2 separate regions of the Homo sapiens genome follow, and region 2 is linked to region 1. Evidence: fine-mapped expression QTL. A gene starts in region 1. The other region holds a variant in brackets. All regions are shown on one strand. Distances are from middle to middle.

Region 1 (5,372 bases):
TGATAGTGGGCATTCTTATTTATTTATTTATTTTGAGATGGAGCCTCACTCTGTCACCTAGGCTGGAGTGCAGTGGCAGGATCTTGGCTCACTGCAACCTCTGCCTCCCCGGTTCAAGTGATTCTCCTGCCTCAGCCTCCCAAGTAGCTGGGATTACAGGCATGCACCACCATGCCCAGCTAATTTTTATATTTTTTAGTAGAGATGGGGTTTCGCCATGTTGGCCAGGCTGGTCTCGAACTCCTGACCTCAGGTGATCCACCTGCCTCAGCCTCCCAAAGTGCTAGGATTTCAGGCATGAGCCACCGCGCCCAGCCTGATAGCAGGCATTCTTATATTTTCGCCAAGTTCAGAGAACCTAGGGTCTCAAAACAGTCACCCTTGCGTCTACTGTGTCTGGAAAGCAAAAGTTAATGTGCTTTTTGACTTTTGCTTTCCAGACACATTAAAGAAAACCTCCCCATTTCCACTTTTGAAGTGATTTTAGTAAGTCAAGGTTGACTGCCCCATATATCAGCCTCCTACCTGTGAGTAAAGAATTGTTCCAAAGTGACTGGAAACAGAGAAAGTATGGCTTTCTTCCACTCTCTTTTAGGCAGCAGCGACTTACCGCAATGGCCCTGATGCAATCAAGGTAGGAGGCTTTCTTCACACAAGCAACACTGGGACCATCGGATGGAATGACGCTTTTCATATGGTCGCGGAAACTCTGGCACTTAGTGGCCTCATGCTCCGACACTGCACACCATCTCACAGTTTTATCAGGGACAGCCAGACACAGCCCTGGGGGAGAGAGGCCAGAGGTGGAAGGGCCCACTCCCTATGCTGAGGGAGAGACAGCATCGCCCCTAGAAAGGCCTTGACAGCCACATCCCCTCAGTCCTGTCCTCCTCTCACTCCTGTCCATGAACACTACAGGGCACAAGTTCTACTGCATTCTGAGTCTGAGCCAATAGAAGGTTGCCCTAATGGCCTCCCAGTTTCCTACTGACCACCCTCTGCTGGCCAGAGGGGTGCAGGCATGGCCATCACCTCCCAGCTGGAGATGACAATCTGCTCCTCTGTATCCGCCTTGTCTCCTCCCATCACTGTCCTGGCCCCTGGCCCCCCATGGAACATAAGCCTCAGTATGCACAGGGCGTTTTCAGCTACCCCAACACATTGGCTTGCTACCTCAACTATGGAAAACCAGCGGGGGAGGAATTGCCATCTTTTTGAGAAGAGGGAGTGAGACTCAGAGAATGATGCCTTTTTTTTTTTTTAACCCAAGGTCACCCTGCTTGTCGTTGGCCAAGCCAGGCCTAGAATCTGGGTCTCCAGACTCTGGGTCTGCTACTCAGGGCACAAAAGAAGAAAACATTCTGAGTTACACCCCTTCTTGGCCAGTAGTTGAGGGTAAATTAACGAAAAGAATTAATTTGTCTGTAACTCTTGTCTGTTGCTCTCTGTTTAGGAAGAACTAAAAACTCCACAAATTCAACAGTCTCCCCTCTGTCTCCACTGAACTATCCCTCCATTTTCACCACACTTTTTGGCTGCCATTCACAAAAAAAGCTGAAGCCAGCCATGGGTAACTATTAAAATCCATGTGGTTGCAGAGACAGCATCCCTATCACATGAGCTTTTGCCCTGTCCCCAAGGCCCTCTGTCATCTCCACTCCTTGTGGGCCACCACAGCAAGGCTGACTCACTGGCTCTGAAGAAGATCCACAAAGCCTGTGGAGAGGAGGCCCACAGCTCTCCAGGATGCATGAGGAGGGGCCACCAGGGATGGCCACCCCAGCGACCCCCATTTTCCCTCTTGGCCCATGGGAAATCCTAGGAGGCAACATAAGCCTGTGGCAGCCCCTCCACAAAGCCCTGCCTCCAGAGTTCCCATAGGCGAGAATGTGTCCTCAGTGGAGCATTACCTTGCACAGCCTGTGAAGTGCTCTGTGCGGGGATAAAGGCAAGTAACGTGGGGTCCTCTCTCAAGGAATTGCTAGCTTATGGGGAGAGAAAACTAAACGTGGAAGCCCCAACAGTGTGACAAATGCCCCATGAATGGCAGGCAGAAGTTAGAGTATGAAGGGGGCCCCACCTCAGGAGGTCGGGGAGTGTGGCGTCAGCCACTGCCCCATAGCAGGATGTGTGCAACATCTGCCACTGGTACTCAGCATCTGCCACCTCGCTGACCCTCATTTGACCCTCCCAGGCAAGTGCTGTGATGACCCCCTCCCTGGTGAGGAGCCGGCCAGGACTTGGATCCAAGAAGTCTGGCTTCAAACCCCATGCTCTGACCGCTCGATGGCACCGCTTCCTTGGCAGGACATCTACAGCTCCCAGGGCACCCAGGGGACATCAGCCTCTGAAAGGGGAATGGTCAGACCCGGGAGGCCTTGAATGCCATGCTAAGGAGTTCGGACTTGACAAGAGGCAGCAGCAAAGGGTTTTGATAACCTGGTTAGACGTGCTCTGATTTATTGTATTTCACTGCTGCAAGATTTACTGGACAAAGAGGAGGAGGGGGAGAAGACAGTGAGTGCAGTGAAAGGTGTCTAGAAGCCCAAGCAAAGGCCAGGGGTGGGGCGTAGAGAGGCAATGGAAAGGCACCCAGACACCCAGGCTTCCAGCCTGAGCGCGGAGTGCATGCAGGCTGCGCGGTGGCCGCCCGGGTTGCAGGGAACGCGCGGGCCAGCGACTCTGCGGTGCTACCCCGTGCCCGCACTCACCCAGGACGGCGCAGACCAGCAGGGCTCCCACGGCGAGCCTCATCTTCCGGGTGCGGCGCTGAGCAGCGAGCACAGTCGGACTCGCTTCTGTGCAGCCTCCGGCGCCCCGCGTCCCTTTATTCCATTCCCGGCCTGGGCGGGCTGGGCGCAATCTTTGACCTCCCGTGTTTGTGCAGCCGGGTTGCCCAATCGCCCCTCTCCCAACCCCCCTTCCTTACTCGTCCCACTGATCACCTCATTTTCTGAGCTCTGGAGACGACCCGCGAGTGGAAGGAGTCCAGCACAGAAATGTTGATGGGAAGGGACATGAAGCACAATGCAGCCATTGTCATCGCGGCTCGCTCGGTGCCAGGAGCGGCTACGGCGGGCTGGGAGCCGGGGGGCTCTGCTCCTGACTCCAGGGCTGCAGAGCTGGTCCGTGCCACCAGTCCTATCTGCGCAGTCCACAGAGGAAGACTCCGAGGCTGGAGAGGGAAAAGAACTGCGCCCAGACCCCACACTAGAACTGCAGAATGACAGGCAAAGCCCCTTTTGGGGGAGGATGCAGGAGAAACAAGCTGGGCTCAAGGTCAAAGACAGACTCAGCACCTTTTGCTCCCCACCAGGTGTCCCTCGAAATCCTGCTCCTGGGCTCTCAAAGGTCCCCCACGGAGGAGCTGCTCCCTCTTCCTGCCCCGCTGAGCTCAGGCTCCTGGGCTGGAAAACTTCCCGCCCTCAAGCTTCCTGTGGGACACCTTAGACTAGGGACAGAGTCATAGGGGAAGATGAACTCCCTCCAACAAGAAGGTTCCAGGAACATGGTCAAGACACTGTGAGGCTCAGAACAAAGTGTCATCTTAGCACAAAGCAAGCGGCCCAGTGGACGGTGTGGCCTGTTCTTACAGCCTGGGGCCACCATGTCCCCCTCTAGTCGATGAGTCTCCTAACCAGTTTAATTACACATCCTTATCATGAAAAATATTGAACTTGTGCCTTCTATATGCTTATATTTTAACTAAAAAATGTGTACACTTCAATCATGCACAAGGAATAGAAATTTGTAAAAGGATGAGCTAAAGATGAAACTCATTTTCAAATGTCGTTTTGCTTATGCGGCCTTATACAGGATTATTATCTCAAGGCATAATATACTTGGGGAAAGGTCAAGATTCCTTCCACGAAGTGTAAATCCAGACTTCAGAGATTTTGCCAAAAGTTACTTCTTATCCAACCTGACCAGATGGTCATTCATTCTGTCTCATGTTTTAGTTGACCAAGCTCATATCAAGCCTAGTGGACACGTCAGGTCAGTCATTTGATTTTTGTTCACTTGTTTTTGTGTTGTCAGAATTGTCTCCTAATTCTAGTTTCTTTGTAAGAATCTTTTTAAGGCATGTGTGCATCTCGTGAAGGTTGGAGTTAAAGCCAGATTATCTAATCTGTACATCCGTTTAACTGGGCACATACAAACCACAAAGTATGGAAATAAAAATGCCAAAACAAAGGGCAGGGTCGGCACTCCCCTTTTCACCTTTAGCATTGTGAGGTGAACCCCATCTTCCCTTAGGACACCTGAAAGGCTCCATCTGTCATGACTGCAGACTCAGGTGGGAGATAGGGCCAATTCACACATTCAATATGAATGAATGATAATTTGTTAATCTTTTGCAATAACAATAAATATAACTGGAAGTTAGATTATGTTCTCCCACACTCCAAAAGATTATCTCATATGCAAAGGGGTTACATACCTCCCACTTTAGAGTCCACTACAGAAGCTTTCTGTTTACAGTGAGGACAGAAGTCAAGTCTGGCTTTCCCAACACATCAGCCTCACCAGCGAGGGAGAGTGACCACTGCTGCCCTGTCTTACTCCCCCCTTGCCCGTCCACGGGCCCCTTGTGCTTGAGCCATAGGGAAAGAAGACTGTTAGCATGAGGGCCATATTCCTACTGCCCCTGCAGCAGGCTCTAGGCAGTGGTCTGGATTCATTTGGAGACCTTGAGGTAAGGATGTGAGATGAGCAGGAAAAGTCAGGGGCAAGGCTAACTGGAAGGCACCCAGCAGAGCAGCATGCACACATACAGCTGATGCATGGACAGGCCCTGTAGTAAGCTTGCAGGGTCTGCCAGAGAGCAGGAAGTGCAGTTACGAAAGGTTGAGCCCATGCCACAAACTCAGGGAAGCTCAACGCAGGGCATGGAAAGAAGATGGTCAGTGATTCTCCTTTTCTGGAGCCCATCTACATTCGTAGACTAAGCCCCGCTGAGGCCAGTCCTCCAGCCACAGGCCCATAGCCTAGCCAGAGCCCCTCAGCAGGGAGCAACTACCTACTGGCCAGGCTGAGTCCTCTCCAGAGCAGCCAGCTCTATGCCCTGTCCTCAGAAGGGTCCTTTGAGTCCAAGCCCAAGACAGGTGCTGGGAAGGAAATATACAGCCTCATGGGATATGAAGGAAGCTCAGACAAGACATAGAGAACTGGTGCTCCCACGTCATCTACACACACCTAGATGGAGAGGCCAGGGCCTTGGCTTTTGCTCAAGAGGACAACAGCAGAGCTTCGTGCTTGCCATTCCTTGGATGGGGTAGGCAGGGGTGAGGCCAGCTTTGGGGTGTACATGTGTGCATGGCCCTAGCTGTATGGGGTGCCTATGCCTGTATATGTCTATAGGAGCATGTGAA
Region 2 (5,372 bases), 32 kb after region 1:
CTAAATAAAATGAGGAAACTAGCCATGATGATCTGAGGAAGACAAGCACTCCAGATGGGGGTAGGACCAAGTGCAAAGTCCCCGGGGAAGGAGTGTGCCTGAGGTCTTCAAGGAACAGCCGAGATGCCAAGCTGACTGGAGCAGAGAGTGCACAGGGAAAGAAGTAGATGAGGTTGCAAAGGCCTCTTAGATTACAAAGAACCTTACAGATCAAAGAGGCACCTTAACTTTTACTCCGAGTGATATGGGAAATCACTGGTGGGCTTTGAGCAGAGAAGTATTAATGTAATGCTTTAAGTTTAACAGAATCACTTTGGCTCATGTGTTGTGGAGGAGAGTGGGACAAGACAGATGCATGGAGACCTGTCAAGGGGCTATGATAAAAATCTGGGGAGAGACGATGGTGGTTTAGGTCAGAATGGTATCAGTGGAGATGGGCAGAGAGATCGATTCTGGATACCTTGAGAAGGTACAACCAATATAATTTGGTGATGGACGAGATATGGGGTGAGAGAGAACAAGGGCAGGCACAGAAAGCAGCAAGGTATTGACATTTTTTCCAAAATGAAAAATAGAGTTGCCCTTAACTGAGATGAGGTGGGCTACAGGATGCAGCACTTGGGTGGGAGTGTATGGAGTTTCAGGAGCTCAGTTTTGGACATTTAAGTTTGAGATGGTGGTTAGAAATCCAAGTGGAGATAGCCAGTAGGCAGCTGGATCTACAGGTCTGGGGTTTCAGGAAAATGTCAGAACTAGAATGTTAAATTTGGGAATTGTCAGCATACAGAGATAAACCCACCAAGAGAATGGGCAGCAGAGAGAAGAACTCCAAGTACAGAGCCCTGAGTCATGCCAGCATGTAGAGGCTGGGGAAGTGGACAGAACCAGCAAAAGAGACTGAGGTGCAGTGTCAGGAGGGGGAAGGGAGAATCCAAGAGAGTGTGGTATTCCAGAAGCCAGGGAAGAAATCCAAGAGGAGGAAGTGATGGGGGCTGCCAGTGATGCTGGTAGATCAATTAACACTGGAACAGGAATTAAAAGAAATTAAAGAGTGTGTAAGCTGATTCCTTAAAAATCCTGCAACAACACAAGGACCAAGAACTGGCCTTTCGATTTAGCAACAGAGATCACTGGTATAGTTTCATCTCCACAGTGGTCGGTGGTGTACCAAGGGGGTTGGAGTGGTGGGAGTAGTCTGCCCATACTCTGACAATAAAGAGGTATATTTTCTGTAGATCATTGAAAAACAATAATAAAACCAACTCCATGTTGGCAGTTTGGGGCCTGAACAGATTCTTAAACTGGGTCCTGGGGAGATTTAAAGGGGAGAAATATGAGTTAGCAAAGATATTTAACTCTTTCAAGGAATTTTGTTGTAAAAAGAAGAGGAGAAATGGGAGAGGAAAGTGAGGTGGAGAGGTTTTACTTAGTTATTTGTGTTTAAGATGGAAAAACATAGCAGCATGTTTTGTATGCTGATGGAAATGATCTAGTAGAGAAGAAGATTTGATGCTGCCACAGAAAAAGGGAGAACTGCCAGGGCAACAATCCTGAACCGGTGCAGGACAGGACTTAGCGAGGAGACAGCCAGTTCACCCCAGTAGGAGGAGGGAAGGCAGTGACTAGGGCCACAGATGCTGGCATGTGGGTAGATATGGCAGCAGGGTGTTGTAGAATTTATCTTTCGATTTCTTTTCTTAGGAGAAATAGGAAACAAAGGTATGAAAGGTGGGGGAAGAAGTGTTGGAGGCTTAAGGAGAGGAGAAAGTATGGAATTGTCTTCTAGGAGAAATGGGGTAGTGGGAGGACTAGAGATACATGGCTCATTTAACAAGGTCCTCATCACTTAAAGGGAAACCAGCCAGGCTGGAAGTGCAGGCACAGTTGATTGTGAAATGTATGCTCAGAAAGGATGGAAAAAAAGACCACGGGGAAAGGTGCGGGATTGATAGATCACAGGTCAGCCAGGAGTGAATGGCTAGAGGAGTCAAGAAACTTAAAGGGCTGGGTGTGGTGGCTCACACCTGTAATCCCAGCACTTTGGGAGGCCGAGGCGGGTGGATCATCTGAGGTCAGGAGTTCAAGACCAGCCTGGCCAACATGGTGAAACCCCGTCTCTACTCAAAATACAAAAATTAGCTGGGTGTGGTGGTGGGCACCTGTAATCCCAGCTACTCAGGAGGCTGAGGCAGGAAAACTGCTTCAACCCAGGAGGCGGAGGTTTCATTGAGCCGAGATCGCACCACCACACTCCAGCCTAGGTGACAGAGCAAGACTCCATCAAAAAAACAAACAAACAAACAAAAAAACAACTCAAGGAAGTGAAAAGACAGGTAGGAGATGGAGAGAATGAGAGGT[C/T]TGAAGCTAAGACTGCTTTTTATGTGTATGTTCATTTTGGAAGAAGTTGTGGTTCTAGACAGACCATCAAGCCTAACACCAATGCACCTTCTGATGTAAAGAAAAATTAAGCAATTTCATCCAGATTTAATGTAATAATAGTATATGTTGTTGTAGATCTGTGAAAATATGTAATTTATGCATGGCTTATGAAAGAGAGAAAACTTTGGAGAGGGCAGGACAAAGTAGTCTGGTAGTGGAATACCCTGGTGTCTATGAATAAAAGAGAACTTTCTAGAGCCTCATACATTGTTCACATAACTCATTCATACAGCACTGCCCTGCTTCCTCAAAGGTCCAGCACTGCCCACAATACCTAGAGTTAAATCTACGTCTTTAGCCAGGCCAACAGGGCTCCGAGACAGCCAGTGCCTCTCTCTCTGTGCCCTCATCCACAGACCTTCTTCTCTGGCCTCCACACAGCATGACTTGCCCTGCCCCCATGCCTTTGTGCTTGCTGTTCCTTCATCCTACGTTGCTCTTCCTCCAGGTTTTCTCAGGCCTGATTCCCACATGACCCCTCTGCCTGCTGAGGCCTGCCCTGACCACCTTTTCTGAAATTTCTAAAACTGGTTGCTGATGCATCACCTCCCTTGGTTCCTCAGTAGCACTTACAGTTGGAAAGTATCCTGCCCTTTATTTATGTGCTGTTGTCCTACTTTCCCCAGAAGACTGGGAGCAGGGGAGGGACAGGTATTATGTGTGGCTTTGAGACAGAAGAGGGACAGGACTTGGTACCCCCCATACCCCACCAAGGACCTCACTGCAAACTGGTAGAGGGGAGGCCCCATGGGTGGCAGGGACCCCAACCAGCCCCTCCAGACCTTGCAACATAAACCTTGCTCAAGGAGCCATACCTGCTGACTGCCGGACCCTGAGGAAGCTAAAAGCAGCAGCTCCCACCATAAATCTTACTATCTCCCACATGCACGCAAGGCCAGGAGAATGACTGATCCTTAACTTTAGCTTCATTATAATACTAAAAATCACACCCAGGGGTGGAGATGTAACATGCTTATAAGACAAGCGATGCATGAAGAAGCATGTCATCAAACTGTGGAGGTGCTAAAAGTTCCCTGCCTCTACATTCCTAGACATCACTCCTTTCTCACCGCGGCCCCTTTACAACTTCCTTTTCAACACCCTCTGGGGAGCCAGCCAGAAAATTCTCTCTCTCTTGTGTTGCCTCCCATATTCCTGGGCATAAGCTCCAACAAAGCCTTGTCTGGGAAAACTATCTTGGCCTTATGACAATTTCTATTGCATTGAGAGCCCAACAACCCATGGTTGGTAACAGCTTAACTGCTGTAACACCTCTAGTTAGAACAATACCTATTAGGTGCTCAATAAATATTTCTTGAATGGATGGAGGAGCCCAGGAATATCTATTTTTAAAATATACTTACCAGCCAAGTGTAAGAAGTGAGGTGTCTGGTGTCCCCCCTGTGATTTTAAACCAAGGCTCTGATGGATTCTTGACTTGTCCACAGTCACACAGAAGAAAGTGGCAAAAGTAGAACTAGAGTTGTGACTCTGCCGCCATCATTCTTGCTTCTCCCTAGGTGCCCTAAGGTGCCCTAAATCATCTGGGTCTGCAGGAGAGTGCCCTAGAGAAGAGCAGGACTTGAGTCATTGGAGCCATTCAAAGTTTGCAGTAGTTCTGTTTCCTAGATTCTGGCTCCTTCCAAATGCAGCAGCCAGATGCTGGGATGATGGAAGAAGTGACAGGACAAGAAATGTACTGGCTTGGTGCAAAGATAAAGGTGGTGCACAGACATTACTTGCCTGAAAGCCCCACTGGAGCCGTAGTATCTCTCCTGGCTGTTGTAAGCCCATATGTGGGCAGGATTGCACCTGCCACCACACAGAGCACAGAGAGGGGAATCCGGATTAGACCCAGGGGCACAACTGCGACTGAAGAAATCATCTGCGAGAAAGGACAACCAGAGGTCAGGATCAGCCCTCCCTGCCTGTGTTAGCAAGAAAGCCTCAGATTCTGTCCCCAAAATTGCCTGATAAAGACACATTCAGTTATTTGTAACATATTATTAAAAGCAAGACTTTATGGAATTAAAAAAAAAAGGTTCCAGCTGGAGCTAAGTAAAGGGGAACTGACTCAAGTTGGATCAAGGGTCTGTGAGCTCACAGGGGTCTACTCCATCCCAGCACAGGGCAGTGGCATCGAAAGATGGACACAGAGTTTAACAGTGAGGGGACAAAAGAGAAGTCCTGGCTCGCAGAACCCGGAGCACATGTTTTCTGGGCTCTGCTGCCATTGCCCTTTTTCACAAGGTGTGCCATCACAGCTTCAAGTCCAGGAAGAGTCTAGAGAGGCACAGCTGCCAAGCCCTGTGCTGGGCTCCAGGGCACCACCATGAGGAAATCAGACACAGGCTCTGCCCTCTTGAAAACTTGCAGCCTGTAGGGCGATAGTCAGAACTCAAGTAACCACACCAGTAAATTCATGTTTCCCTCTTTGCTCTGGGAAAAAATTATAGGGTTCCATGAAGCTACAATAAAAGAGCCCCTTGCAGCCCTAGGGGTCAGGGAGAAGGTTTAAGCCGAGACATGAAGAGTGAGTAGGAGTTACCCAAGTGAAGAGTGGAGGGGAAGAGCCCTCCAGACAGGGGACCAGCATCTGCACAGGCCTGTGTTGGGGTGGGGTGGAGGCACGGCACAGAGAGCCTCATGGAGGCCTTCAGGACTAAACCACCAAGAAAATGACGGTGAGTGCAGTGGGGGGCAGGGTCCAGACCCTTTTACTGTCATTAGTTTTGTTCTTTATCGTTAGAGAGATGAGAAGTCTGTGAAGGGTTTTAGACAATGCTGGGCCAGGGGCAGTAAGCTGGATATGGTCATATCTGCACTTTGCAAAGATTGGCCTGGCAACAGGGTGGATGGAAACCAGAGCGGATGTGGAGTTCAGGTGGCAGGCTCCTGGAGAAGTTCAGGGGAAATGAGGGCAGCTGGGGCTA

What was found. PIP is the estimated chance that this variant, and not a neighbour inherited with it, causes the effect. A credible set is the group of variants that fine-mapping cannot tell apart.
Region 2: its variant is the best candidate, but not a certain one, in a credible set for the expression of TF in sun-exposed skin (GTEx, PIP 0.54).

Annotation. Positions count from the first base shown.
Region 1 is chr3:133,743,823-133,749,194 of GRCh38, reverse strand. TF (transferrin) reads right to left here and starts at 2,802. Exons shown (of 17, transcript NM_001063.4): 1 at 2,712-2,802; 2 at 611-783. The coding sequence starts at 2,754.
Region 2 is chr3:133,711,613-133,716,984 of GRCh38, reverse strand. It overlaps a transcript of TF not described here. Among named protein-coding and RNA genes, the nearest start is that of TF, 32 kb to the left of the region's middle. The variant C/T (reference allele first, on the strand shown) is at 2,359.